4 linked regions of the Homo sapiens genome follow. The protein of the gene in region 3 purifies or fractionates together with the protein of the main gene of each other region. This does not show direct contact. Each region holds a gene or a part of one and is shown on either strand. Other genes may lie near its edges.

The links.
Region 1: the proteins of QPCT (region 3) and DHRS4 purify together in Homo sapiens (affinity purification with mass spectrometry; 3 studies listed by BioGRID and IntAct, with this or other methods). This does not show direct contact.
Region 2: the proteins of QPCT (region 3) and FRAS1 purify together in Homo sapiens (affinity purification with mass spectrometry; 3 studies listed by BioGRID and IntAct, with this or other methods). This does not show direct contact.
Region 4: the proteins of QPCT (region 3) and NUBP1 purify together in Homo sapiens (affinity purification with mass spectrometry; 3 studies listed by BioGRID and IntAct, with this or other methods). This does not show direct contact.

The regions. Positions count from the first base shown.
Region 1 is NC_000014.9:23,956,757-23,963,784, reverse strand, and holds part of DHRS4 (dehydrogenase/reductase SDR family member 4), read right to left. Parts: intron 3,884-7,028; coding exon 3,782-3,883; intron 1-3,781. UniProt on the Homo sapiens protein: NADPH-dependent oxidoreductase which catalyzes the reduction of a variety of compounds bearing carbonyl groups including ketosteroids, alpha-dicarbonyl compounds, aldehydes, aromatic ketones and quinones.
Region 2 is NC_000004.12:78,060,308-78,067,335, reverse strand, and holds part of FRAS1 (extracellular matrix organizing protein FRAS1 isoform 1 precursor), read right to left. Parts: intron 1,352-7,028; coding exon 1,320-1,351; intron 1-1,319. UniProt on the Homo sapiens protein: Involved in extracellular matrix organization. Required for the regulation of epidermal-basement membrane adhesion responsible for proper organogenesis during embryonic development. Involved in brain organization and function.
Region 3 is NC_000002.12:37,354,611-37,361,638, reverse strand, and holds part of QPCT (glutaminyl-peptide cyclotransferase precursor), read right to left. Parts: intron 2,060-7,028; coding exon 1,781-2,059; intron 1-1,780. UniProt on the Homo sapiens protein: Responsible for the biosynthesis of pyroglutamyl peptides. Has a bias against acidic and tryptophan residues adjacent to the N-terminal glutaminyl residue and a lack of importance of chain length after the second residue.
Region 4 is NC_000016.10:10,746,823-10,753,850, reverse strand, and holds part of NUBP1 (cytosolic Fe-S cluster assembly factor NUBP1), read right to left. Parts: intron 6,709-7,028; coding exon 6,575-6,708; intron 1,242-6,574; coding exon 1,173-1,241; intron 1-1,172. UniProt on the Homo sapiens protein: Component of the cytosolic iron-sulfur (Fe/S) protein assembly (CIA) machinery. Required for maturation of extramitochondrial Fe-S proteins.

The sequences.
Region 1 (7,028 bases), on a different chromosome or scaffold from region 3:
TTGAAAGCTGAGGCAGGCTGAAAGTTAGACCATGTGCACCAGTTAGCCAAATTGTGAATGCAAAGGAAAAATTCTTGAAGGAAATTAAAAGTGCTACTTCTCTGAACATATAAATGATAAGAAAGCAAAAGAGGTTTATTGTTAATATGGAGAGAAAGTTCTTATGTTCTGGACAGAAGATCAAACTAGCCACAACATTCCCTTAAGCCAAAGCCTAATCAGTAAAAGGCCCTAATTTTTAATTCTTTGAAGGCTGAGAGAGGTGAAGAAGCTCCGGAAAAGTTGGAAGCTAGCAGTGGTTGGTTCATGAGGTTTAAGAAGCCACCTCTGTAACATAAAAGTGCAAGATGAAGCAGCGAGTGCTGATGTAGAAGCTGCAGCCAGTTATCCAGAAGATCTAGCTAAGATCATTGATGAAGGTGGCTACAGCAAACAACAGATTTTCAATGTAGATGAAACAACCTTCTAGTGGAAGAAGATGCCATGTAGGGCTTTAATAGCTAGAGAGGAGAAGTCAATGCCTGGCTTCAAAACTTCAAAGGACAGGCTTATTCTCTTGTTAGGGGCTAATGCAGCCAGTGACTTTAAGTTGAAGCCAATGCTCATTTACCATTCTGAAAATTCTAGGGCCCTCAGATTTACGCTAAATCTACTCTGCCTGTGCTCTGCAAATGGAACAACAAAGCCTGAATAACAGCACATCTGTTTATAGCATGGTTTACTGAATATTTTAAGCTCACCGTTGATAGCTACTGCTCAGAAAAAGATTCCTTTCAAACTGTTACTGCTCATTGACAATGCACCTGGTCACTCAAAAGCTCTGATGGAGATGTACAAGGAGATTAATGTTGTTTTCATGCCTGCTAACACAACATCCATTCTGCAGCCCATGGATCGGGGGTAATTCTGACTTCCAAGACTTATTATTTAAGAAATACATTTTGTAAGGCTATAGCTGCCATGGATAGTGATTCCTCTGATGGATCTCGGCAAAGTTAACTGAAAACCTTCTGTAAAGGATGCACCATTTTAGATGCCATTAAGAATATTTGTGATTCATGGGAGGAGGTCAAAATATCTACATTAACAGGAGTCTGGAAGAAGTTGATTCCAACCCTCATGGATGACGTGGAAGGGTTCAAGACTGCATCAGAGGAAGGAACTGCAGATGTGGTGGAAATAGCAAGAGAACTAGAAGCGGAGCTGGAAGATGGGACTGAATTGCTACAATCTCACGATAAAATGTAGATGGCTGAGGAGCTGGTTCTTACGGATAAGCAAAGAAAGTGGTTTCTTGGGATGGAATCTATTTCTGGTGAAGATGCCATGAATATTGTTGAAATCACAACACGGGATTCAGAATATTATAGGTACTTAGTAGAGTAAGCAGTGGTAGAGTTTGATAGGATTGACTCCAATTTTGAAAGAAGTTCTACTGTGGGTAAATGCTATCAAACAGGATTGCATGCTACAGAGAAATCTCTTGTGAAAGGAAGAGTCAACTGATGTGGCAAACTTCACTGCTGTCTTATTTGAAAAAACTGCCACAGCCACCCCAGCCTTCAGCAACACCACCCTAAGTCAGCCACCATCAATGTTGAGGCAAGATCCTCCACCAGCAAAAAGATTACAAGTTGTAAAGGCTCAGATGATTGTCAGCATTTTTTTAGCAATAAAGTATTTTAAAATTAAGATACGTATATATATTTTAAAACATAATGCTATTGCTCAGTTAATAGACTTCCATTAGATGATCATTATAATGTAAACCTAACTTTTATATGCACTGGGAAACCAAAAAATTCATGTGACTCACTTTATTATAATATTCACTTTATTGTGTGGTGGCCTGGAACCAGACCCACAATATCTCTGAGGCGTGCCTGTACTTAGTTTAAAACTGACTTTCATATGGTCTCTATTCAGACTGTTCATGAATGATGCTCCTCTATTTTAAAGACTATCAGAATCTGGCTGTGTGTGGTGGCTCATGCCTGCAATCCCAATATTTTGGGGGGCTGAGGTGTGGGGATCAGTTGAGGCCAGGAATTTGAGACCAGCCTGAGCAACACAGTGAAACCGCATCTCAATACAAAAAATTAGCCAGGCATGATGGCACATGCCTGTAGTCCCAGGTACTTGGGAGGCTGAGGCACAAGAATCGCTTGAACCTGGGAGGCTGAGGTTGCAGTGAGCTGAGATCACACCACAGCCCTCTAGCCTCAATGACACAGCGAGGGAAAAAAAAAAAAAAAGGAAAAAAGACAGAGCAAGAGTCTGTCTAAAAAAAGAAAGAAAGAAGCCAAACTTAAATGGTTAGCAGCAAATCTCTGGGTAGTTTTGAAGAAAAGACGGTTTAAGAAAGAGAAGTTATTTTGATGATAGTTCCTAAGAAGGAAGGTTTTGTTGTCATTGTTGTTGTTGTTGTTTTTAATATAGAGAAAAGGTCTCGCTGTGTTGCCCAGCCTTCTCTCAAACTAGCTCAAACTAGAATCAAAAACTAGCTCACTGAAGAACATTTTGGCAGTTTGGTCTTTATGTGTATGAAACACTGGTAAATAAATCATAGTATTTTGGCAACCTGATACTTTAGTGTTGAGAAATTTTGATGACATCTGATATAGTTGGTAAGTTTGTCCCCTCTAAGTCCCATGTTGAAATGTGATCACCAGTGTTCCAGGTGGGGCCTGGTGTGAGGTGTTTGGGTCATGAGGGTGGATCCCTTATGAATGGCTTGGTGCCCTCCCTGTGGCAGTGAGTGAGTTCTCACTCTATTACTTCATGCCAGAACTAGTTGTTTAAAAGAGACTGGTATCTCTCTCTTGCTTCCTGTCTTGCCATGTGACACACTTGCTCCCTTTTTCCTTCTGCCATGATTGTAAGCTTCCTGAGGCCTCATCAGAAGCAGATACTGGCACCATGCTTCTTGTACAGTCTGCAGTATCGTAAGCCAAAACAAACTTCTTTTCTTTATAAATTGCCCAGCTCAGATATTCCTTTATAGCAATGCAAAACAGACTAATACAACATCAGTGTAAAACGCAGAACCATGGGAGATCATAAAAATTAGCATTTCCCAATCATGTGGGAATATTAACCTTAATAAACAAAGACAAATATTTTAATTAAAGCTTTGTAATTAAAGAGTGTGTGTGAAATATATTACGAATATAATGTAATTATACACTTTCACATAAAACCCAATATTCTACCACTTGAATTTAGACATCTGGATCTCAGATTTTCTTGACATTGCAGTTAAGAAGAAAATAATATAGGTTTTTATTTTATTTTTTTAAAGGATGTATGTTATAAAGTGGCAACTGGTCATTTCACCAGAATTAGTATTTTAAATAAGGAGCAGCATTTAATATTTCCCAACTCGTAAAAAATAATTACTTTTTGTCAGCTGAAAAGGGGACAGGTGGGTGTGTAAATTAAGTGTTGTAGTTGTTGGCATATTAGCTGCCTACGTCTCTGTTGGAAATCAACAAGGCAGAAGAGCATGCCAGGGAAAAAGCCTGGGGAGAGGAGCAGACTGTGGCTAGTGAAGAGCAGATAGAAGCAGAGAGAACTAGGAGTAGCAGAAACGAATGAGAAGGGCAGGGATAGAGCCACCCCCACCCGCCCTTTGCAAGGTGTGCTCCAGGTGTGTGGCACGTGGCAAAGAGTCCTCACATTTACACTGCCCTTGAGAAATGCATTCTAAAAGCAGATGGAGTTTGTGCTGAATGTGTTCCAAGGCGCCCCCCCCGGCCCCCCTGCTTTAATCCCCTCTCACCTTGTCCCACACCTCCTCAGTGACATCCATTATGCTTCCAAAGAAAGGGTTGACAGCAGCATTGGAGACTAGGATATCGATACCTCCATGAAGCTTCACAGCCTAGAGAGAGGGGTAAGTTCTGGACCAGGGCTGCAGTAAGTAAGGGAGGTGCATTTACCCATGTTGATAAAAACTTCCTTCTGGGCAAGGAGCTGTGGCTCATGCCTGTAATCATGGCACTTTGGGAGGCCAAGGTGGGAGGCTCACTTGAGCTGAGGAGTTTGAGAGAAGCCTGGGCCATGCAGCGAGACCTTATCTTTATATTAAAAACAACAACAACAATGACAACAAAATCTTCCTACTTAGGAACTATCGTCAAAATAACTTCTATTTCTTAAAACATCTTTTTTGAAAACTACCCTAAGATCTGCCGCTAACCATTTAAGGTTGGCTTCTTTCTTTTTTAGACGGAGTCTTGCTCTGTCATCCAGACTGGAGCACAGTGGCATGTTCTCAGCTCACTGCAGCCTTGACCTACTGGGTTCAAGCCATCCTCTTGGCTCAGCCCCCCAAGTAGTTGGGACTACAAGTGCGTGCCACCACACCCGGGCAATTTTTGTATTTTTTATAGAGACAGGGTCTTGCCATGTTGCCCAGGCTGGTCTGGAACTCCTGGGCTCAAGCCATCCACCTGCCTCAGTATCCTAAAGTGTTACAGGCGCGACCCACCAGGAAGTTGGCCCTATTTCTTTTGCAGTGTTTTCTTCCCACCTCCTATTCTTCCAAGGCTGTCTCTGACGCTCTTTTCTTTACACTTCCCCTTTGGGAAGCTCCTTCATTCTCATGATTTCAAGTCTCACCCCAAAATCTATTTCCAGACCCCTCCTCTTCCTTTCACACTGAGTTCCACCCACATTTCTCCAAGTGCTTACTGTCCAGTTCTCCTTGAATAAGTTACCATTATCTCAAAGTCAATCTGTCCACACTTACCTGAATGGAAAAACTGGCTTAAATAGAGCTGTAGAAAGTTACCCTGGAGGGGCCTTTGAGATCATCTATTCCAGTGTCCTTAAGGTGGAGATGATGAAATAGGTTCAGAGAATTTTCTCAAGATCTTATAGTTCAGTAGTGGCACACTGGGGCTAGGTAAGAACAGGAGGCCTGCTTATTCTGTGTTTGGGAGGGGTGAAGTGATGTTTTCAGGGCACAAAGCTAGTTAGTGGTGGAAGAACTGAGGTCAGTCTCCCACTTTGTAGCACAGAGCTAATTCATAAGAGCCCTCTGAAAGTGAGTTGGGGTCATCAGGAAACTGGTTGCCCAGGAGAGCCGTGATGGGAGAAGATACCAGCCTGAATTTAAAGCAATTCCATATTTGGTTATGATGTCATTTTCCCTGTCTCTGTCTCTCTCTTTTGACCTGGAGGCATGAAAGATTCAAGGCAGAAACTGAAATTTAAATTGAGAAGGCGAAGAAAGGCAACATCTCACCTCCTTAATAAGTTATAAGTAGATAGTGAGGCCTGTGCTAGAGTAATGAATGGCCAAGCAGAATCTGCCAACAAGGGTTTTCAGTACAAAGCCACCCTGAAACCAGACTTTCCGTTTGCCCGGAACTGGCAATTTTGATGCCTTGGGCAAGTTGCAGTACACGGGCCCTCGGTCAACTTTGTGCTCCGGATTTGGCACACAGAGGGGTGTTACTAACAATGTACACCATCTGCTAGCTTCCCGTTTTAACTAATTATTCTTGTTAACTAGGTGCTAAGCTCAGTTGTTTCTAGACAGTTGAAGGAATGCTGGGCTGTCAATGTGTAAATCTAACAAAATTTACAGTCACATAATCTTTTAAAACCAGTATTAATACTTTCTTGCACCCTTTAAATTTTGGTATCCTGGCACAAAGCCAAGTCACCTGCCTTGGCTCTGTGTAAGTCTCACCAATGGACTTGTTACTAGGGAGGTGCAGAGTAAGTTAATAAGTGATGTGCGCCGTGCTCAGTACACATGTGTTTGGGCTGGGAGGAGACAATGGATTGCTCTAGAATCACCTGGAGACATTTTCTACTCTGCTGTATACCCCATACTCCTCTCCTTCCAGGTCTGTCAGCACAGAGATGGGAGGAGGCTGGGTTTTGATTGAACAGAGACAGCAAACCATAAAAGATGAATGAGGCTGGGTGTGGTGGCTCACACCTATAATCCTAGCACTTTGGTAGGCCCAGTGGGGAGGACCACTTGAGGCCAGGAGTTCAAAACAGCCTGGGAAATACAGCCCCAACTCTACAAAAAATTTAAAAAATGAACTGGTGTGGTGGTGCATGCCTATAGTTTTAGCCACTTGGGAGGCTGAGGTGGGAGGATTGCTTGAGTTCAGGACTTCGAGGTTACAGTGAGCTATGATCATGTCACTGCACTGCAGCCTGGGCAACAGAAGGAGGCCCTGTCTCTGGAAAAAAAAAAAAAAGGAAAGTCTTCTAAGTCTTATTCTAAATTGTGTGATCACTACACCAAAGCGGTTAGGAGCTGTTTGTTCTGTGTTCTGATAGTTATACATTTTTAAGAAAAAATATAATCAAGGAGATAGGCAGCTACTCTGGTTTCCACTTACAACACCAGTGAGAAGCTTCGTGGTGTCCAGATGAGGAGGCCACTGGGTAGTATCCATTCTCAGGAAAGTGGCTTTTCTCATTGCAGGGTAACATGTGGCAACTGGCAGAAGACATTTCAAATTGCTGACAAGTATTCTATCATTCTCCTCTCTGACAATGGTCATACAAACTACTTGAGAGTCATTTTTGACTTCTCTATTTCCCACTTTTTGACATGGGGTTGGAAAATCTTGGTTCGTTTCCACTGAATGTCTCTTGGGCACATCTATTCCAGTCCCACCGCCACTGCTCTAAACCTGGAGGACAGCAACAGCTTCCTCACTGATGCCCTGGATTCGGTGTCTCCTCTGTATATCCTTCCTACCAGAGCCAGATTAGCTTTCCTAATAACCATCTTTCTCTTGCTCAAAACCTCACATGGCTTCTTATTTGCTACAAGGGTGTGTAAACATATCCTTTTAAGAGGCCATATCCTTTTAAGGTCCTTAACGTATCCTTTTAAGAAGCTATGGCCGGGCACAGTGGCTCACGCCTGTAATCCCAGCACATTGGGAGGCCGAGGGGGTGGATCACCTGAGGTCAGGAGTTCAAGACCAGCCTGGCCAACATGGTGAAACCCTGTCTCTACCAAAAATACAAAAATTAGCTGGACGTGG
Region 2 (7,028 bases), on a different chromosome or scaffold from region 3:
GACAGGATGTCTTGTTCTGGTCCACCACTAATGGTGAATTACCTCTAGCAAATCTCTTCATCTCTCTCTCTCATCTTTTCCATTAAAAGGGGAAAGAGTATGGAATGATACATGGCCTGCCTATTTCATTGGTCTATTATAAGTATCAGACATATGAATACTTATGAAAATATATGGAAAAGTTATGAAGTACTCTACACAATAAATAATTCTCTTTTATTAGCACGGATAACTGACTTGTCTAAATATCTACTGTAGCTCCCCAAAAGTGATAATATATTTTAGAGCAAATGATTCCTAAAATATATTAAAGAATAAACAGGGCAGGATATGGAATGACAAATACAATAAAAATGGCTTTTTCCTAATTTTTGATAGAAAAATATTTAAAAAATAAACTTCTCCAGCAGTAACTACAGTATATAAAGTGCAGATTCAAGGATATTATGGTGAATATCTACAGTTATCTAGACTCTAAGATACTTCAGATATTCCTCAGCTATTTCAATACCACAAGGATAATCCAGGATGACTTATCAATATCACACATGTCAATAGCAGGTTGTGATGTAAATGAGCAAATTCTTTCCAACCATCTCAGTTCAGTTTTATTATAGCATTTATTAAACCAAAATAAAAACATGGTGAAGAATGATTTGTCACACCATTTATTAGAGTTGATGGAGTGTAGACAGTCTTTTCAATAAGGCTTTAACACACTGTTATGCACCATAGTGCATTAGTAATGAAAAGAAATGCATGAGACTTACATCAGCCTTTCCCCCAAGTCATTCTGACATTAAATTCAAAATCAATTTTACCCTATATGGCAAGAGTTCAGAAATAAATGTTAATTTCTTTGCTGTTCACCAAAACTTAAGTTTATAATTCAAAGTAACAACAGAAATCCTTCCTATTCTACTTAATTTAATAATCATACTTTTTTTGGAGAAGGGTTCAAAGTGGGAAGCAAATGCAACCAGAAGTTAAAAAATTGTGTTTCAGTTTGTATCTGACAAAAGGATGGGATCTAATTTTCTCTCTGATTAAAAGAACACAAAGAACAGCCACAGAATGTAAATCGTGTGTTGAGTGTTTGAATTTCTCTTCCAATACCTGAGTATCTGAATAGAACTAATTCACTCTGGAAAAGGTATTAAATAATTGAGCATCATTGTGCCCGAATGAGGGCTAATTGTCAAACGTTGAAGAAAAATAAACATATTCTACAATGATAGGGTCAACTCACTCACTCAGGAACTTCAATCAAGCATTTTACATTCAAATGACAGAAACCAAGTATGTAAAGAATGACCTACCGCCAACAAGGAATCCTGATAGACACAAGCACCTGTGGGGAAAAACAAAACAAGAATTAAAAGGGATGCATAATAAACCAATAGGCACTGCCCCAGCAAGCTTGCTGCTAAAACTGCATCTATATGCATCATAACCAGGAAAATGAGCTTCTTCCAAAATCTTAAAAGCTTCAGCATTCTTCCCCTGGGGAAATAACCCCATACACCAAAACAACATTCCTTGGACACACATGAGGAAAAGCATCATTAAAACTTATGACTTGAATTTTAAGATAAATGTGTTTATAACGACATGCTATAAATACAGTAAATATTTTTCTTGGTGATAAGTCAGCAAAGCCTCCATAATCCAGTCCCATTTACTTATCCAGGCTTCCCTGCCACTGTTTGCTTACACTAAGCCTCCAGTCCAACCCAAGAGGCCAACTTAGAATCCTGTAATATATTTACATGTCTCAATGCCTTTGCTCATTTTCATTTTCTACAGGAGATGTACTTTGTCTAGTCAAGCTCTTTGAACTTGATCCCATCTCCTTTGTGAAACTTCTGCCCACCAGATTATGCTCCTCTGAGCTCCTAGCATTTTGTGCCTACATCCTCCATTTGTGAATTTATTCTTGTGTATTTCCTTTCTAAGGATGTTGAAATGTTGTATTTACCCCACTACATTATATATATGTGTGTGTGTACTACATATAGAGAGAATATATACACTATATATACCATTACATATATACTATTACATATATAGTATATACATATATATACACATGTATACCCACTATATACTATATACCATATATAGTACATATATAGTATATACACATATATACACATATATATACATATATACCCACTATATACTATATATAGTATATATATAATATATAGTATAAATAGCATATGTAGTATTTAGTGTGTGTGTGTGTATGTATATATATATATATATATATATATACACTATAAAACTGAAATCTTAACTTAAAAAAAATATAGACACATTCCCAACCAATTTTTGAGCTGCACAACAGGTCTTGATTTAACTTAGAAAGAGATGGGCAGTGTGCTGTCACCTACTCTCTCAGAAACTGAGTCTGCAAAACACATTTGAACAGTATATACACACCAAGGTGAAGCATATCTTAACAATGCTCCACACAGTTGGTTTCTAAAGAGAGAAGGACATTATTTTACCACAGTGCTTACCTCTAATGGATCATTTATGAAGTCCCAATAATATTAACTTCTCAGGAAAGAATTGGTCTACCTTCTCCTCCAGTAATGGAATTAAGAACAATCTTTAAAAAAACTGAGATGACTATTTACACTTAGGTTTGAATCAAAGATCTCTGTGGGCAAATTTATTGAAATAATTTTTATGTCCCTGATATTCTTTTTTTTTTTCTTGGTATACAACAATTTTATTGGTGTTTTAATATAATTCACCCAGAATATGAAGGCATCACATTAGCTAAGTACAAGGCATATGTATAAGCAAAAATTATAAATTTATGACACCCTTGTGCCTTTCTCCTAATGACATTTCCAACTTTTAATGGTTTGTATTTCTTCCTCTGCAGACATAGGATAATTAATATAAATATGTCATTTTTGAGTTTATATTTTACACAAACTTATTATTTTACTTTAAAATAGTTTCTAGCCATGGCATTAATATTTATTAAAATTTCTGTACATATGAAAAAAGGAATTTATTTCTATACATATGAAAGAAAGGAATAGGGAGTGTCTATAAATGAATGATTTTATAGACACTCCCTATTTTTTTATTTTATTTATTTATTTATTTTTATTATTATTCTTTAAGTTCTAATAAGAATAACTTGAGATAAAACCTTGAAGGAAAATTCTTCTTAATTGACTACTTTTTCCTTAAGAAATCTTGTTCCAAGACTTAGTAGTTCAGTCTATGGTATGTTATAAGAAAGGAAATATATATATGTGTACATATGTATGTGTGTGATGTGTGTACTAAAATAATTCTATATATCTCAAATAAATACATATGAACACAATTCACTTTCTAAATTACTTATATGGACATATTTAATTATTTCTGGTGTTTAGAAAATTTAGAATAAAGATCATCATCACTTAGGTACAATTTAACAAAATTTAAACTTTAGATTAAACAAAACTTAACTTTTAGAAAAAACACAAACAAAATTTAATCTTTAAAATAAGACTATCCTCAAATAATTTTATTGCTCTCCACAGCATTACCTTCCAAAGTCAATTTCTTTTCAAAGCTCCAAAGGAAATCAAGCACCTTAAGAAGTATCTGAGTACCCATATCAAAACCTATTTTTGGAAGTTTAGATAGCCATGATAAACTCACTGCAGTATGAAAAAAATAAAGTAGCACTGAGTGTGGCACCACATCTATACCTGGGCAAGCCATGCATCTGCTGGAGACTCAAGCCAAAATGGTGTAGAGCTGCTGAAAAATTATATCATTAGGAAAAGGAATTAATTCAATTTGGGTTGCTTTGTATTGTACAATTCCAAAAGAAATAAGCTTTGCCCTCTGAGAGCTTTCCTAAAACAGAACAGTTCTACCTGGAAGGCAGCTGCATGAATGAGCCTCCATTAACACAGCTTCCAAAACCTCATTTCTACTCTCTTGAGAAAAAAAGCATTCCAGTGTGATGCCCAGTTCTATCAAACATTTATCATCACCCAATACCAGATGCAGCATCCAAAGGAAGCATATTTCTCTCACACACCCACCAGCAGATGAAGTTGAGGGGTTTGTTGACATGGGTACTGGGTGTAGCTTCTGGTTGAAAGCCAGAGTGGAGGTCTTTTCACTAATCCGTCAGTTCACATAATATGGAAAACAAAATTCATCTCTCGACTCATTATTTTTTTTTCTTCAGGAGTACAAGAATGATTGCAGGTCTATTTGACGTTTATATTTATGGCAGGGAACTTTAAAGAAAATTCCAGCTCAAGGTGAATTCTGTGAGAGAGTGCTGATCTAGAAGAAGAAATGAGCCTCCCTCAAAGGAAAACTGAGGAAAAACCGGAGACAACAGGAGTAGTTCTCTAACTATGAACAATGCCAATTTCAAGGCACAGAATGCAGCTGAGATGCCAGGTAATTTAAGTTCTAACACCTCACAACCTGTGAGAAAGAGCATAAAGTTTTGCAGGGTGAAGTAATTTTATAGTGTCAAGAAGGAAGCCCAGATCCTGAGACCTGAGCTGCTCTTTTACTGTGTGGCTGGCTCATTTCTTGCAGGTCACACAGAAAAAACGTTACTGCATAAAATTTAAACAAGTAAATGTCTGTTTTTAATCCCTTTTGCACATTATAATATACGCCTTTATGAGATGACTGTATAAAATCTAGTATTTTTGGAGAAATTTTGAGATATAATTTGCATATATTCTGAAACCGTTGGTAAACTGAGTAAATTAGAGAAGTTAAATCCAAGCACCACAAAATGTCAGACCCATTAGTTCAAAGAAATAGTGGCAGATACAACCATTAAGATACAAAAAGATTTGGAGAGCATGGTACCACAAGAACATGACTCATTAGGAACAAGCAGCCACAAGTTGGCATTTAAATGTTCAGGCTTTATGTTGTGTTATAATTCAGCATATGGCTGTGTGCACTGTGGAATACTTAAAATAGAATCATTTTCTGAACTGACAGGACAGCTCATGTCCTGATTATTGTCAACTAGGATTTAGATCAATTAATAGAGTAGTTAAAATGAAAGTGGGCCAACTGTTTTGGAACTACGGTAAGATTTGGCATGAGGCTCCAACTTTGACATGTGGTAGTCCCCTCCCCTACTCTGAGCCATGTGTTAAAGAATATTTTATGACTACTTGTGTGAGTACAGTTGGGTGACATTGCCACCCAAGTCCATAACAGTGAATACGGATGGCTGGGTCCTTACTAAAGGATGTACACTATATAAGGAGAGTAATGCCCAGAATCCAATCTTCAGAGGGCAATGGAAATATAATTGATGAAAATAAGAGTCCACAACAACACCTCTTTATTTCCATTGCCAGGTAATTACAAAAGCCAAAGGATGCAAAGTTACAACCATCATCTAACGTTTCCATACTGAGAAACCCACCAAGGACCAAATGTTCCCATATCCCTACTGCTATTCAACTGACATTAATGATTTCTAGATATGCAAACTCCTTGAGCGCAGGAGGTTTTTTTGGCTTTGGTTTTGATGTCTGTACCCACCTACTGGACATAACCTGACACAGAACCTCTCAATAAAGGCTTGCAGAATAAAAGAATTAGGTTACTTTTTTCCAGCCAAGTTCTTCTCTTCCCAACATTGAGTTATTGAGTTTCAAGCATAGAGTCTCTCAGTGAAACAACTCTGCAGCCCAGAGTGCAACTACCCTAACTCACCCATAAATAAAACATATTGTCTATCAAATGAGCCTCTTCAATGTAACCTGTTAAATAGCATTTATAGGAAAAACCCGGGATTCAGCGTTTGTGGGAATGGCTAAAATCACATGGAGAGTGATGGGACACAGACTAAAGCTCAATTCTCTTAACCTCCAATTCAATGATGTTTCCCTATCCCAAGGCAACTGTCTTATCTACTGTAACTTCACAGGACTTCCATATGTCAACAGAACTCAAGATATTTCTCCAGAAAAAGCCATGGTAGAGTTTCTGTGATTCAGAAAGCAGCCATGTTAGAAGCTTCTTTGTGACTTCTTGATTTTATTAAGTTCTCAAGTCATAGCATTAATACTTTACCAGTTTAGCAATATAAGGCCATATAAAATAACACTGCCAATAATTTGCTTGTAAAAATTTATTTTTCTTTTGATATTTCTTTTGATAAAATTTAGAGGCCAGGCACAGTGGCTCACACCTGTAATCCTAGCACTTTAAAAGGCCAAGGCAGGCAGTTCACTTGAGGTCAGCAGTTCAAGACCAGCCTGGCCAACATGGTGAAACTCTGTCTCTACTAAAAATGTGAAAATTGGCTGGGCATGGTGGCGCACATCTGTAATCCCAGCTACTCAGGAGGGTGAGACATGAGAATCGCTTGAGGCCAGGGGGCAGAGGCAGCAATGAGCTGAGATTGCACCACTGCACTCTAGCCTGGGTGATAGAGCAAGACTGTGCCTCAAAAAAAAAATAATAAAAATAATAAAATTTAGAACCAGAAAATTGCAATTGACCACTAATAATGCAGCAAATACTGATCTCTTTTTCTTCTATGTTTGATGATTAGCCAAAGTATCTTAGAGCTATCACGTAATGTACCTCATTTAGTAAATGACAGAACTATAGCGCAAAGAGGTTAGATGGTTCATTCAAGGTTAGTGAGCTAATCAGAGGCCAGTCCACCAGTTAAGCTTAATTCAAAATAATATAATTTGGCAATACTGTTCATCTGACCAATTTTTTGAGCACTTAGTGTATACTAGGAGCTGAACTGAAGATATCAGAATTAATAGGAGCCATCCTAACCCCTCAATAAGCACACAGCTAAGTGAGGAAGACCAAACCCATACCAACCACAATTGTTCTCTCTGTGCACTGAGAAGAAAACGACAAATTCTGCCATAAGCTGGTCAGCAAAGGTGTCACAAGGTACATCCCATCAAAAGAAGTATACATGTGAATGTCTCTTTTCTATTTTTAAAAATTATTCTCTAGGCTGATAATAAAAACTTGAGGAG
Region 3 (7,028 bases):
AGGTTGGTTCTGCTCCAGGTGTCTCATCCTTCTGCTGGGACTGGCAGGCTAGCCAGGGCATGCCATTCTCATGGTTATGGCAAAGACACGGAAGAGCAAGCCCAATGGCACAAGCACACTTCCAGCCCCTGTTTGTGTCACCTCTACTAACATCCCATTGGCTAAGGCAAGTCAAATAATGAAGTCCAGAGTGAAGGGATGAGGAAGTACAACTGGCTACAGTGGGAGGGCACAGCAAAGTTACCAGGCAAAGGATGTGGATGTGTAATGACAGTCCTATTACTGGAGAGAAGTGGAGCTATGAAGAGTTGCGAATAATCCAGTCTACTTATCAAGCACTCTTTCAGGTCACTTTCCACCACCGTCTACCCAATCCATGACAGCTGAAGAACTTAACTTCTCAATACCAATTTAGTTAAAACATATAACTGGAAGAATAAATCTGATACTCTCAAAGTCTGCATTCAAAAACAGCCTCTTAAAAAAAATCCCCCACCTCACCATTTATCTCTAACAGAAAGGATTACTATGAGAATATATATGTTGATTCAAATTTTTTTAATGATGACCCCAATCCAATAACTCATTCAGACCTTTCTATTAATATTTCTGGTCACCAAAAGCAGATATGAGCTATATGGGAAAAAGCAAAGGAGTTCACTCAGAGAAAATACATCCATTACACAGAACAATGTCTTCAAGTCATACTTCATTTTGTGTCCTTATACTAGAAGTGCAAATATGAAAAATTAGACTTTTGCATCAGCTTTTGAACTCCTTCATCCAATTGCTGGGGAAGGAAACTAGTTAAAAGCAGGGCAAAGCATGGGACAAAGGGATTGTAGAAGGCTCAGAAAACAAAACAAACCAAAAAAAAGAAGTGAAAAGGAGACTGAGAGGGTATAAACAAGTCTTGCTTTCTTCAATTTCAGCATATCCAGCAAAAATAGAACCAAATATCTCTACTACTTCCATTACAAGATAAACTTTTTACTTCTTTACCCCCACTGTATCAAAGGCTGGACCCTTCATAAAGCTCTGAGCGGGGAACAAAGCATTTGTTGCCTGAGAACAAAGTTTTTTGTTTTTGCTTTGTTGTGTTTACTTGGTTATGAGTGATATCAGAACAAAATATCTTCATCTAGTTTAGCACTTTTTTCCAATATACCCTTAAGAACACCAAGACTGAAATAACATCTGAGAGTCCCAGAAGTATTTTGAGCTGAGAGCATAACAAAAGCTCTGCTATGCTACATAAAATGGAGCTGAGATTCACAGATAATAACAATAATGCATTTCTGCTTCATGCTTTTCATCTTGATAGGTCTGAATTACCCACTCTCCACTTCAGAACCACTTTGCTGCAACTCCCTCCTCCAACCCAAGAGCCACCATCTCTCAGATCAGAAGGTTGTGATGTTTCATGGCCATAGAAAGAAGAAGAAATAAACATAGTTCATTATAAAACACAATTCTCATACTATACCTGAAACAAACTTCCTCCTTCATTTTTCACAAAGAAATGTTGCATTTAATTTAATGTGCATTCAAGGCTGATAAATCAGGTGCCAATTAATGAATGCATTGTCACGTATCTTAGGTTTATTGCCCATGGTTGATATTCCCAATCATGCAATCTTACAATTAATGTTCATAATAAAAATGTACCAAAAGTCTCCATTTCTAAATGGCCTTCTCATTCCTCCAAGGATTCTAGAATTCACTCTGAGTTACTGTTAATGTACTTTATCCTAGGAATCAATAAGCAGAAAACAGATACCTTTAAGGAAAGGAGTTTCTTGTCTAAGGCACGAGCAAGTTCCAACATCATTGCACATGGCACGGCTGAATCAGTGGCTCCTACAAACACTCTGTTGTTCCAGTGGGAAAAATACTTGGAGTCATAGTGGCAGGCGAGGACCAAATGTCGTTTAGCAGTGGGATTGAGGGTGCTGATGATATTTGAGAAAGACCGGTACCCATAGGGTGTCTGACTCAAGAAGGTGTCTATTTCCAAGACCCAGTCAGCCTGAAGCCTCTGAATTCGCTGCATGATGTGCTGATCAAAACAAAAAAACAAAAAATTTAGATCTAAAGAAATGGCTTTCATTTGTTAACTGTGATTCTGAAATTTTAAGTAGTGCCTTTCAAATTAAAATTGGAATACACACTTAATGAATTCATAGCAATATTATTGCAATTAATAATTGCTTTGTATTGTTATTGTAATTAATAGCATTTGTCCTGTTTAAAGGAGAAGCTAATCCTCTTGCCTCTCCCTTAAACTTCCCCTTACTAATCAATCTCAACCAATTGTTAATATTAACCAGTGTTAATAGTTTGATGCAGATCTTTCGACATATCTTCTCCTTGCTTATGCAAACCTACAGTAGCATACAAACACATATATTTGGCAGAGGGGCATATGTTTTTGTAGGAAAAGAATCCTACTTTTTATATTACTCTCCCCTTGCTTTTCTCCTTTAACAATATATTATGGACATGTCTACAAGTCAGGAGACAGAGATGCAGTTCGGTAATAGTAACGTACACTTTTAATATTTCTAGGAGGCTACAAAGGCATATTTAAAAAATTAAGTAAACCAGCAACCTACAGGTCTCTATCTCTAAGCTCTTCAAGGACAAGAACTGCAAATGGTAGCTCTTTCTGTCCCAAGTGCATAACATGTGTCCAAGTCCAGCAAATGCTTTACATGTAATGAACACTAATAAAAGATACAGATGCTCACCTGCTAAGGATAACGTAGAAAGCTCCCATAGCTAGGGGGTGGTTCAGGTTATTTCAGACCTCCGCTCACTGTAAGAATTAATAAGCAACCCTGAACCATAATAACATATCAAGCAGCTTTCCCTCTGCACCCAAGGCAGGTTGAGACGCACTGCAAATGCTGGCAAATATAAAAGAGAATCTCTTTCCCCATCTCTGCTGGCCACCTTGAGCCTTATAAGGCAACACAGTGACTGACAGAAGAAAGCAACAGGTGCAGAAAGTAGCATCACTTCAGGAACTAGAAGTATTTTTTTAAAGAACATATTATAGACTTCACGATGTGAGAAGTTATAGGTGAGTTCATTGCTGATTCATTTGCCTTTTCCCATCCCTATTTTATCTTGGCTTCACTTTCCTATGTTCCTTGGTTTTTTGTTTGTTTGTTTGTTTTGTTTTGTTTTGTTTTGTTGTTTAACAGGGCTTCACTCAGTCACCCAGGCTGAAGTGCAATGGTGCAATCTCAGCTCACTGCAACCTCCGCCTCCTCGGTTCAAGCAATTCTCCTGCCTCAACATCCTGAGTAGCTGGAATAACAGACACATGCCACCATGCCTGACTAACTTTTGTGGGTTTTTTTGTTTTGTTTTTTTGGTTTTTTGTAGAGATGGAGTTTTGCCATATTGCCGGGGCTGGTCTCAAACTCCTGGGCTCAAGTGATCCATCCGCCTCGGCCTCCCAAAGAGCTGGCATTACAGGTGTGAACCACCATGCCCAGGCTGTTTCTTTTTTTTTTTTTTTTCAAGTATCATATACATCATTGTAAATTGCCTTAAATTATTTTTATAAAAAGTCAAACGACAAACTAACATCAAAATAACTGACAATTTGTCCTTCAATTAACATCTAACCAAAAACCAACATTTCAGATCTAACAGTTCAGATCTAGACAGTTTAGATCTGGGATGGACCTTAAAATGAAAAATGAATAACTGGAAATGAATGTGAGGGCTTTTATTTTTTTTTTCCTCCTAAGAAATACAGGATTTTCTATCCTAGCCAAGTCCCATGTGGCCTGTGCTCACTAATGCGACATGACACGTAGGCAAGAGACTCAAAACAACTGCGGCAGGAAGCTTCCAAGGAAAGGGGAATTTAAATAGTGGGAGGACACTGATCCTACAGTCGGTCCTGCAAAAGCCAACTAAACAAATGATTCCCCAGCTAGAGACTCCTTGCTTTTTATAGTGGGTGGACTTTGTCCTAAATAGCATTGTGCATGCAGTACCTTAACTTTTCTATTGCAAATTTACATGCTGTCTTATCACATCATCAAAAGAAATGTTTATAACCTTTTTTGAAATCAGCATTCATAACTCTCCACAATTTGTAGTACTGTGCTTTGCTCACAGTAGGCTATCAGTAAATATGGGTTCATTCTAACAGTAAATATGAATTGATTTAATGAGAATATATAAAACTATACGATACAAAGCATTAATAGTTTGAATAGAGAGAAATCACTATGCACCTAACATGAGTTTTTCTGCAGACTATGAAAATGAGTTATCCCTAGACTGTAAAAAAAAAAAAAATTCCACAAAATGGGTCATTTAAAAAAAAAAAAAGCATATACTCCAGAACATCTGGTATCCAGATGATAAAATGCTCCATAAAATGGCTTCTTCAACACCAATTGCAGATTGCAAGCTCACAAAATGAATTGGAATTTTAAAAAATATATCTGTTAGCAATACTCAGAAGTCACACACAAACTTATTTCTCAACTTGTTACTAGGTCTTGATCATAATTTCTGATGACCTTGTTGACACTAAAATCCATAAGAGAATCAGCATATATCCTCAAAAGAGTTTTTCCTGAAGCAACTTTTTTTTTTTTTTTTTGAGACGGAGTCTCACTCTGTCGCCAGGCTGGAGTGCAGTGGCACAATCTTGGCTCACTGCAACCTCCAACTCCCTGGTTCAAGCAAATTCTCCTGCCTTAGCCTCCCGAAAAGCTGGGACCACAGGCACATGCCACCACGCCTAGCTAATTTTTGTATTTTTGGTAGAGACAAAGTTTCACCATGTTGGCCGGGATGGTCTCGATCTCCTGACCTTGTGATCTGCCTGCCTCAGCCTCCCAAAGTGCTGGGAATACAGGCATGAGCCACCGCACCCAGCCCCGCAACTTTTTTGTTCAGTGTAACTATTTTTTGTTTATCTTAGCAGCTAAGATAAATCGTCTTTATAAACGATCAAATTGGCTGCATAATCTAATTAGTTCACCAATATCCCTTGTTTTGTTTTTGGCTTTCAGACTTAGTCTACAAGTCCCCACCAGAAGTCTCTAGGGGAACTCCCCAAACGACCACTACTATCATTCAAATACCCGTAAGCAGGGAGTGCGTGGCTGTGGCAGGGACTCTAAAGCAGCTGCCTTCCCCAATACCAAAGCAGCAAAGGGCTGGACCCTCCAGGAGTGCCGAAAGGCAATTTAGAATATAGATCACACTTTGGGTTGCTATACATCTATGTTTTAAAATGGAGAGGAGAGAAAAAGGGAGAAAGAGAAAAAGTGAGAGAGATGGAGATAGGGATAAAGCAGAGATAGATGGAGACTGAGTAGAGAAAGAAAAAAAATACAAAGATGAAGACATGAGCACGAGAGAGAGGCTGTTACAAGATAGTCTACTTCCAAAGAGTGGTAGGGGGATTTATTCTAGGTTAACACTAGTGAATGATCCTGGGTTTCATTTAATTAAACATAAATTCTAGTTTCCAGGTTCTGAGAAACAATGACATCAGTAGACCAGATTTGCTTGGAGGAAGCCGATTTTCCAGTATTTGTGTTAAGTCTGCAAACACATCGTCGTCAGGATGCGGACATCTGCCACCTGAAGACTCGGGTACCTCTTTACTCTTGAGTGCACCATATATGAGTCCCTCGGGCTCCTCCTCTTAGGGGGCTGGACTGAGGGTGCACCTGGGATCTATGTACCTGATGACATTCAGTTTCGGTGGCTCAGATGCACTGTGCACCTGTGGGGGATTTTACCCCCTGAAGTTTCTAGTTTGCCTCTTTTAGACAAAGGATATTGCTTGCCCATTTGTGAGACTTTATCATCCTAATTTTTTAATTTTTTTATTTCTATCTTATAAATCAATGAAATAGCCCCAAATGTATTATCTTCAAATTATTTGTTTTACAAATAACTTATCTCCTCAAAATAAAAATATCCTAATAATCCAATAGGCAGCTTTGGGGTCATTGATCAGAGACCAGGAAAACGCATAATGTGGGACAGGGTTCCCCCAAAATATTCTCTTTCTGTAAAAGAGAACCCATAGTAATGCACATCTTTACTGGTAACTACAAAAGTTAATTCACAAACCAATTTTATATCAAGTTTACCCTTTTTTAATATTTGAGGATCTTCTCTAGTTACAACCTTGAAACTCTAAATTATAAAACATCTCATCTAGTGTTCAAAAAGGCCTCAGGAGAAAAAAAAAAGGTTCAATCATTTTTGTTTCAATTCAGTTCTACATGAAAGGATCTAATCTTAGTCAAATTAAGGCCATTAGTGTAGTTCCCTCATAATTACTCTGTCATGTACCTCACTTTCAAAATGAGAATTCCTTTGTCTTCCACAGCTTAGAAGATAGGTCTCTAAAAATTAATGGTAATTTTCTTCTCAAAAAATTCTAAAATGGAATCTAAGTGAGATATCTAACATAGCCATCAGCCAGCCCATGCATAGGCAGCCCAGCAGTAGTTCCCAACACATTCTAAAATACTGTCCATAAATATCTCATTTGCCTCCACCCCCATATGATAGTGGAGAATGTTACTGAAACTTCAGTAACACTTTTAAATGAATATGTATCTTTTTAACTACAACAATATCTATGTATATTATTTATCCTATATACTGTATTCTGTTGAAGCTAAAGATCAACTAGCAAAGTTTATTGTGTTCATGGATTTCCAGAGCCTGCAGGCAAAGAACCTCAGGCCTGAAGTATGCATATCATTTCTGGTTATATACAGCGCTCTGGGCAAATGGTATGGGAAAAAAAAAAGGTTGAGTTGAATGGGAAGAGTAAGCATCACAGACCTAGATTTTTTTCTAACAAGGAACTGAGGCTTTTGGAAAATGCCAATTAAATGCCCTGGCCTTCTTTTAAGAAAATGCTTGAGAGATAAGGCCCAGGGAATGTTGTTAAAGTGAATGGTATGTGCCTCACTCTCCAACTTGGGCTTGAGAAGATCGAGAGCTGGAGACATTTGAGTGCA
Region 4 (7,028 bases), on a different chromosome or scaffold from region 3:
CCTTGTGTCAGCGGCCCATGCAGTTGCTCCCTTAGCCCAGAATGCCCTTCCCCCAGCTCTCCCCTCCTGTCATCCTCTGCTCAAATGCTATCCCTCAGTGAGGGCACCTTTGACCACCCCTCAGCCCCTCTGACTCTGCCCTACTGTCCATCCCCTCACTCTGGGTTGGTTTCACATTATCTAGCATCTGCCTTCTCCCACCCAGACAGGGGTCTTCATGGACCTTGTTCACCACTGCATCCCCAAAACAGGATTAATGCATTCCTGGCACTAATTAAAGAAAGAACCAATCTTGAGACTCTCGGGACATCCCAGCACCCCCAGCCCCAGCTTCCATGCACTGCCCTTGGGGGAATCCTCTCTTGGAGAGCTTCTTGCTAGCAAGAAGAGGCCAGCAACTACATAGACTGCTACAGCCCTGCCCCCAGCCCACATCGCTCACCCGCCCTGCAGTCTCAGTTCCCCAGGGGAGACCACAAGGGCAGAAATATTCCCTTGCTTCCAGGGTACAGACCCATAGCAAGCCCTGGTCTAATGTTCCCAGTCAGAGCTAAATTTCCGTGTCTTACTTCTGCATTTCACTGGCTGTTTCCCTTCCCCTCTGAGGAGGCATCGAAACCAATGCTTCTCCAATGGTGTAGACAGACTTCATATACAATCCCGCCCCTCCCCCGCCAAGACTCACAGTTGTTGTTAAAAGTAGACAGATGGACTACTGAGCATGTATGAGCTCCTCATGTCCACATAAACATTTACAGGCCAGGTGCGGTGGCTCACGCCTGTAATCCTAGCACTTTGGGAGGCTGAGGCAGGTGATCACTAGAGGTCAGGAGGTGGAGCCCAGCTTGGCCAACGTAGTGAAACCTGGTCTCTACCAAAAATACAAAAATTAGTTGGGCATGATGGCACACCACTGTAGTCCCAGCTACTCAGGAGGCTGAGCACAAGAATCGCTTGAACCCAGGAGGTGGAGGTTGCAGTGAGCTGAGGTTGCACCACTGCACTCCAGCCCGGGCGACAAGAGTGAGACCTTGTCTCAAAAACAACAAAACAAAACAACAACAAAAAAACATTTATGGGCTCCGCATGCCTCTTTGTTGAGGTTTGACAGTTCAGTGCTACAGAGTTTGCCTTAAGAGAATAATTTCCTGAGTTCTGTAACCGGCTATTACCTGCTCTCCTTCCAATCCCATTATCTTGGGAATCGATGGCCCACATATATCGATGTCTAGAAGAGCAATCTGGGGACAAGAAGAGACCAAAGCGGTTATATAACTGAATGCACACACTCCAGACACACACAACTAGGAGGGGAGCGGGGTTAGAGGAAAAGGACAGGGGAGAAGACAGAAACTGGGTTAAACTTGGAGCCATCAGATTCTCCTGAGGGAGAGTCCTAACGCTGATCTCAAGGTTCATAAACACTGATGCCCCCATTCCCCTACCCCTCAGCCTGGCTGAGCTCCTCAAGGGTGATCTTACAGACCTGGCTGTCAGGTCACTTGGAGGCTCGGGCTCAGACCTTGTTTACTGAGCCCTGGTTGGAGGAGACGGGGAAAGGGACCTAGCGCCTGTTTGGCTTGTGTGACAGAATGGATGGAACAGCCAAGAGACGGCAGTGTTGGAGCCACCCTAAACAGCTCTCTTTTGCTCACCCCTCACCAAGCCTTGGTCTCTGCATCTTAAATTTTTCTCAAACTCATCCTATCTTGTTCAGGAGTCTCAGATACAAGCCAAATCTAGACTATTTAAGCAGAATATGAATGTATTAAAAAATATTGGGGGCTGGGTGCAGTGGCTCACGCCTGTAATCCCAACACTTTGGGAGGCTGAGGCGGCCATGTGCCTAGAAGGTAAGTATCATTATCTCTGGTTTACAGAGGAGGAAACTGAGGTTCAGAGGGGACCAGTTCAATAAGCAGGGAACAGAGCTGGGACATAAACTGAGGTCTTTCGGCCCCAACTGGGGCTCTTTCCAGTACACCACGGGCCTGCTGTGGAGGACCAGAGTGGAGCCTCTAGCTGAACCCTGACCAAGCCCTGTTTTCCTTTGATCCTGAAGGTGAATGATGGTTTAGGCTAAACTTACAGAACAGAAACTTAAAGTAAGATGGAAACCTGGAAAAGCTCTTTAGTTGTGACTCAGGTGCAGCTTCAGGCGACCCCATTCCACCCCAAGCCTTCCCCTCTGATACAGGAGGTCTGAGACGGCCTTCAGGAACCTTCTGAGAACAGGGCTAGTATTCATCTTGAAAGCTGCAATGACTCGGATCCAAAGTGCTGCACCTCCGCGTCACTTTTTAACTTGCCCTGAATTAGTTTCTTGCCACCCTCTTCAATCCTCTCAACAAACCCAGCCTCCTACTTCCTCAGCACCCAGCGCTGTCTCAAACTTGTGCACGGGAAAACGCCATCCACAGACCAGCACTGGCCTCAGGTGCCCTCTATGGAGCCATCCGGGGAGAACAGCAGAGCGACATCATCGGAAAACCTGACTTGCTCTCTCCGGACCTTGATACTTGGGACTGATGTGTCAATGATCCACGGGGAAATGACACTATCACTATGACTGTGATAGAGACTTTCCTCGATACTCTCAGGTTTCTAGTGACTCTGTCTCCATGCCCTTCCTTTAGGGAACAATTTAATCAATTCCCTTTAGAGGAATTTCACTCCCTTGGGGAGTGAATCTTGAGCGAAATGATGTAAGGATATGAGAAGCAGATCCAGCGCACTCTCTCACTCCCGTGGCAGGCCCGAGAGGCTGTTGACAAGCTCCTGCTACCCAGATGGCCAGGACGGCCCTGGGTCCTGTCTGTTCAGACTTCCTGTTGATCTTATTACTACCCCAAAATCTGTCCATTTAATTTTGCTTAGGTTAGGCCAGAAAAGCAAAGCTGAGAGCAATGCGCCTGCGTTCCTCCCAGCAGGACCTCTGGGCCTGTGTTTGCAGCTGATGGGAAGAGGCCGCGTTTGCTGCAGAAGGTGGAGATGCTGCAAGGCTGTCGGGACCCAAAGCGTCTCCTTTACTCAGCACCCCAAACTGCCCCTGATGAGGAGGGTAGGGGAAGAGGGATTTAGTCCTAACTTTTAGTCCTTGCACAAGTTGCTTCTGCTTTCGAAGCCTTGGCTGTCTGGGCTTCTGATCTGTGAGACAACTGCTCCGGGGTCATCAAGGCCCCTCTCAGCTCTGCAGTCCCAGGACCCAGAGGAGGGCCTCGCACACTCAGTCCTGAAACACCTAGTGCTGACCTTGTTATGACAGTTTGCCTTTCAGATCACAAAGATCATAAATGTTTAATTTATGGTGGCTGGGTGTGGTGGCTTACGCCTATAATTTCAGAACTTTGGGAGGTTGAGGCAGGCGGATCACCTGAGGTCAGGAGTTCGAGACTAGCCTGGCAAACATAGTGAAACCCTGTCTCTACTAAAAATACAAAAATTAGCTGGGTGTGGTGGCACACGCCTGTAATCCCAGGTACTCCAGAGGCTGAGGCAGAACTGCTTGAGCCCGGGAGGTGGAGGTTGCAGTGAGCTGAGATCACACCACTGCACTCCAGCCTGGGCAAAAGAATGAGACTCCGTCTCAAAAAAACAAACAAAAAAAGTTTAATTTATGGAAGTTGGTGACTTGTTATTTATTCATTGTTTTTGAGGTAGAGTCTCACTCTGTTGCCCAGGCTGGAGTGCAGTGGCATAATCACGGCTCACTGCAGCCTTGACTTCCCAGGCTCAAGTGATCCTCCTACCTCAGTCTCCTGAGTAGCTGGGACTACAGGTGCTTACCACCACACCTGGCTAACTTTTTTTATGTTTTATGTTTTGTAGAGACAGGGGTCTCACTTTGAAGCCCAGGCTGGGAGTCGGTGACTTTTGCAGTGGAAGACAGTGTATGACTCTTGGCTGTCTCATGGCTCAGGCTTATGCTACAGAGGCTCCTTCTGCCTTCACCACAACTTACACACTCCCTGGGCAGCCTGTGACTCGTCAGGGGTGTTTTCTAATTCTGCTCTCTCTTGATCCAAGGCCCTTTGTGCCAATGAGATGACAGGCGCCTGCCTGCCTCAAGCGCTAACATGGAATGGTCTTGCACAGAGTTAGAGCCAAGCTTCCACCAGATGGCAGGCAGAAAAAGGTCAGGGCATGTCCCACCACCCTGCTGGATTTAGGGCAGGGAGAAATCTGTGCTGCTTGACTTTAATCAAGACATATTCAGCATTTTCCATGTGTTGACACTTTGCAGATAGTGATGTCACTGTCATGAGTAGGTCTGCCTGGGGAAAACACACTTTCCTAAATGCTGACTTCTTTTTTTTTTAAACCACCACTGCATAAAAAAATACAGCTGATCTAGCCATATTTCCACACTGAATGGTGTGCTTTCCTTCTGTATACTGCAAAGTCTAGACAGGCATGCAGCAAAGACTTCAGAACGTAATTACATGAAAGTGAAGGATGTAAACAGTTGTCTACTCACAAGTGGTTACTTGCAAGTGGTGAGATGAAAGCCCATCTCCAGTGAGCTGTTTAGGAATATTCCTGACAGCTTCGAAAAGCAAAGATTCTTCTAAACGATACAGACAATCTGAGAAAGCAGATTTCTTGGCCAGCCCACTAGGCCAGTACAGATTTGACCCTCAAATGGCAAGAGATCGCTGACTCACAGAATGACGAATCAACGTGTGTGTGTGTGTGTGTGTGTGTGTGTGTGTGTGTGTGTGTGTATGTGTCTGTGTATCTATCTATATCCTTTTTTTTTTTTAAATGGAGTCTTGTCTGTCACCCAGGCTGGAGTGCAGTAGGGCAATCTTGGCCCACCGCGACCTCCGCCTCCTGGGTTCAAACGATTCTCATGCCTCGGCCTCCCGAGTAGCTAAGACTACAGGCACGTACCACCATGCCCAGCTAATTTTTGTATTTTTTAGTGGAGACAGGGTTTCACCATGTTGGCCAGGCTGGTCTCAAACTCCTGACCTCAAGTGATCCGCCTGCCTCAGCCTCCCAAAGTGCTGTGATTACAGTGTAAGCCACCATGCCCTGCCCAACAAGTGTATTTTGAATCTGCCCAGTACTATACCTTGGGTAGGCTACAAACTCATCTCTAAGGCAGATGTAATCATCATCCCTTCATATCCAGAGAGTGAAATAAAGTAATAAAAATGGTGGCCATCACAGACCTTTACTGAGCATTGACTATTCGTCGGGCCCCGTGCTAAGTGCTTTACTGTGCCATCTCACTCAGTCCTTGGAGTCCCATTTTATAGATGAGAAAACGGAGGCAGAGTAAGCCTGGTAACTTGCCCAAGGTCACAGCAGTGGTGTAGATGGAGCTGGGACCTGAGTTTGGGCTGTCTGACTCCAGAGTGTGTGCTCTTAGCGACCCACCAACCCCTTTTATTAAAGTTGAGATCCAGAGGGCAGCAGTGGGTAATCTGAGTTTTCATGCTCGTCTGTATGCATGGGTGGAAATGAATAAACTCGTGTAAGGGCCAGCAAAAATTTTCCACAAGGGCCAACAGCAAATATATTATTAGGCTTTGTGGGCAAAATCAAGGATCATATGTAGGTACTTAGGTACTAATTTAAAAATTGCAATTTTAGGCCAGGCACGGTGGCTCATGCCTATAATCTCAGCACTTTGGGAGGCCGAGGCAGGGGGACGCCTTGAGTTCAGAAGTTCAAGACTAGCCTGGGCAACATGGCAAAACCTCATCTCTACAAAAAACCCAAAAATTAGCCGGGCATGGTGGCAAGCACCTGTAGTCCCAGGTACTTGAGAGGCTGAGGTGGGAGGATAGCTTGATGAGCCCAGGAAGTAGAGGTTGCAATGAGTCCTGATCATAGCAATGCACTTCAGCCTGGGTGACAGAGTGAGATCCTGTCTCAAACAAACAAAAAACATTTCAAAAATGTGAACATTCTTAGTTCAAAGGCCATAAGGCAGGAGATGGGCTGGATTTGGCCCACTGGCTATAGTTTGCAGGTCCCTGGCTTAGAGAAAAGCTAAAAGGGGTTAATAAAGAGGAAAAAGAAGCGTGAACGTAATGTAATAAACTATCCACATGCAAGGACAGATGTACATCTGCTAGCCATTTTCTTGGCTAGGGAATCCAGTGAAATGCTTCATTTGACTACTGGGCATTTCTTTGCTCTCTGCCGGATTGAGATTCCAAAGAGGCCAATTCAACTTAGTATAAGGAATCATTTTTTTTTCTTCTTGGACAGTCTCATTCTGCCACCCAGGCTGGAGTACACTGGTACAATCTTGACTCACTGCAACCTCTGCCTCCTGGGCTCAAGCGATTCTCATGGCTCATCCTCGCGAAAAGCTGGGATTACAAGCCTGCGCTACCACGCCCAGCTAATATTTTGTATTTTTAGTAGAGACAAGGTTTTGCCATGTTGGCCAGGCTGATCTCAAACTCCTGGCCTCAAGTGATCTGCCCGCCTTGGCCTCCCAAAGTGCTGGGATTACAGGCATGAACCACTGCGCCTGGCCTAGGAATCAGTTATTTAGTAGCCATCACGACCCTCAGACAAAATGAGCATCTCCCAGTGGTTCCTGAGGTCTCACCTGTGTGTTTTCATCCTCTGCTAGGCCATGGGCAAGGTGGGCGCTGAATGTGCTTTTCCCAACACCGCCTTTCCCAGACAATACCAAGATTTTGTGTTTTACAGTCTTCATTTTCTCTTTGATTTCCTCTATAGCTGCAAAGAAAACCAAAGTTCAGGGGATGAGGTCCCACACCAAACCTCGAATGTCACGCTTCCAGTCAACTAGAAAGAGCTAAGTCCTAGTCCTAGTACTAGTCCTGGGGCTGTTTAAAACGATCCTCTGAAATACCTCTCAGACAATGGTAGAAATAAGTGCTAGGAAGAAAATAAGGCTATTATCACACTTGAAGGGGTCTCATTTATTGGTTTACACGTTTGTCTCCCCCAACTAGAACATAGTCTCCACAAAGGTAGGAACTGTCTGAAGCTTTCAGTGCTGTATTCCCAGCTCCAGAAGAGAACTTTGCAAACAG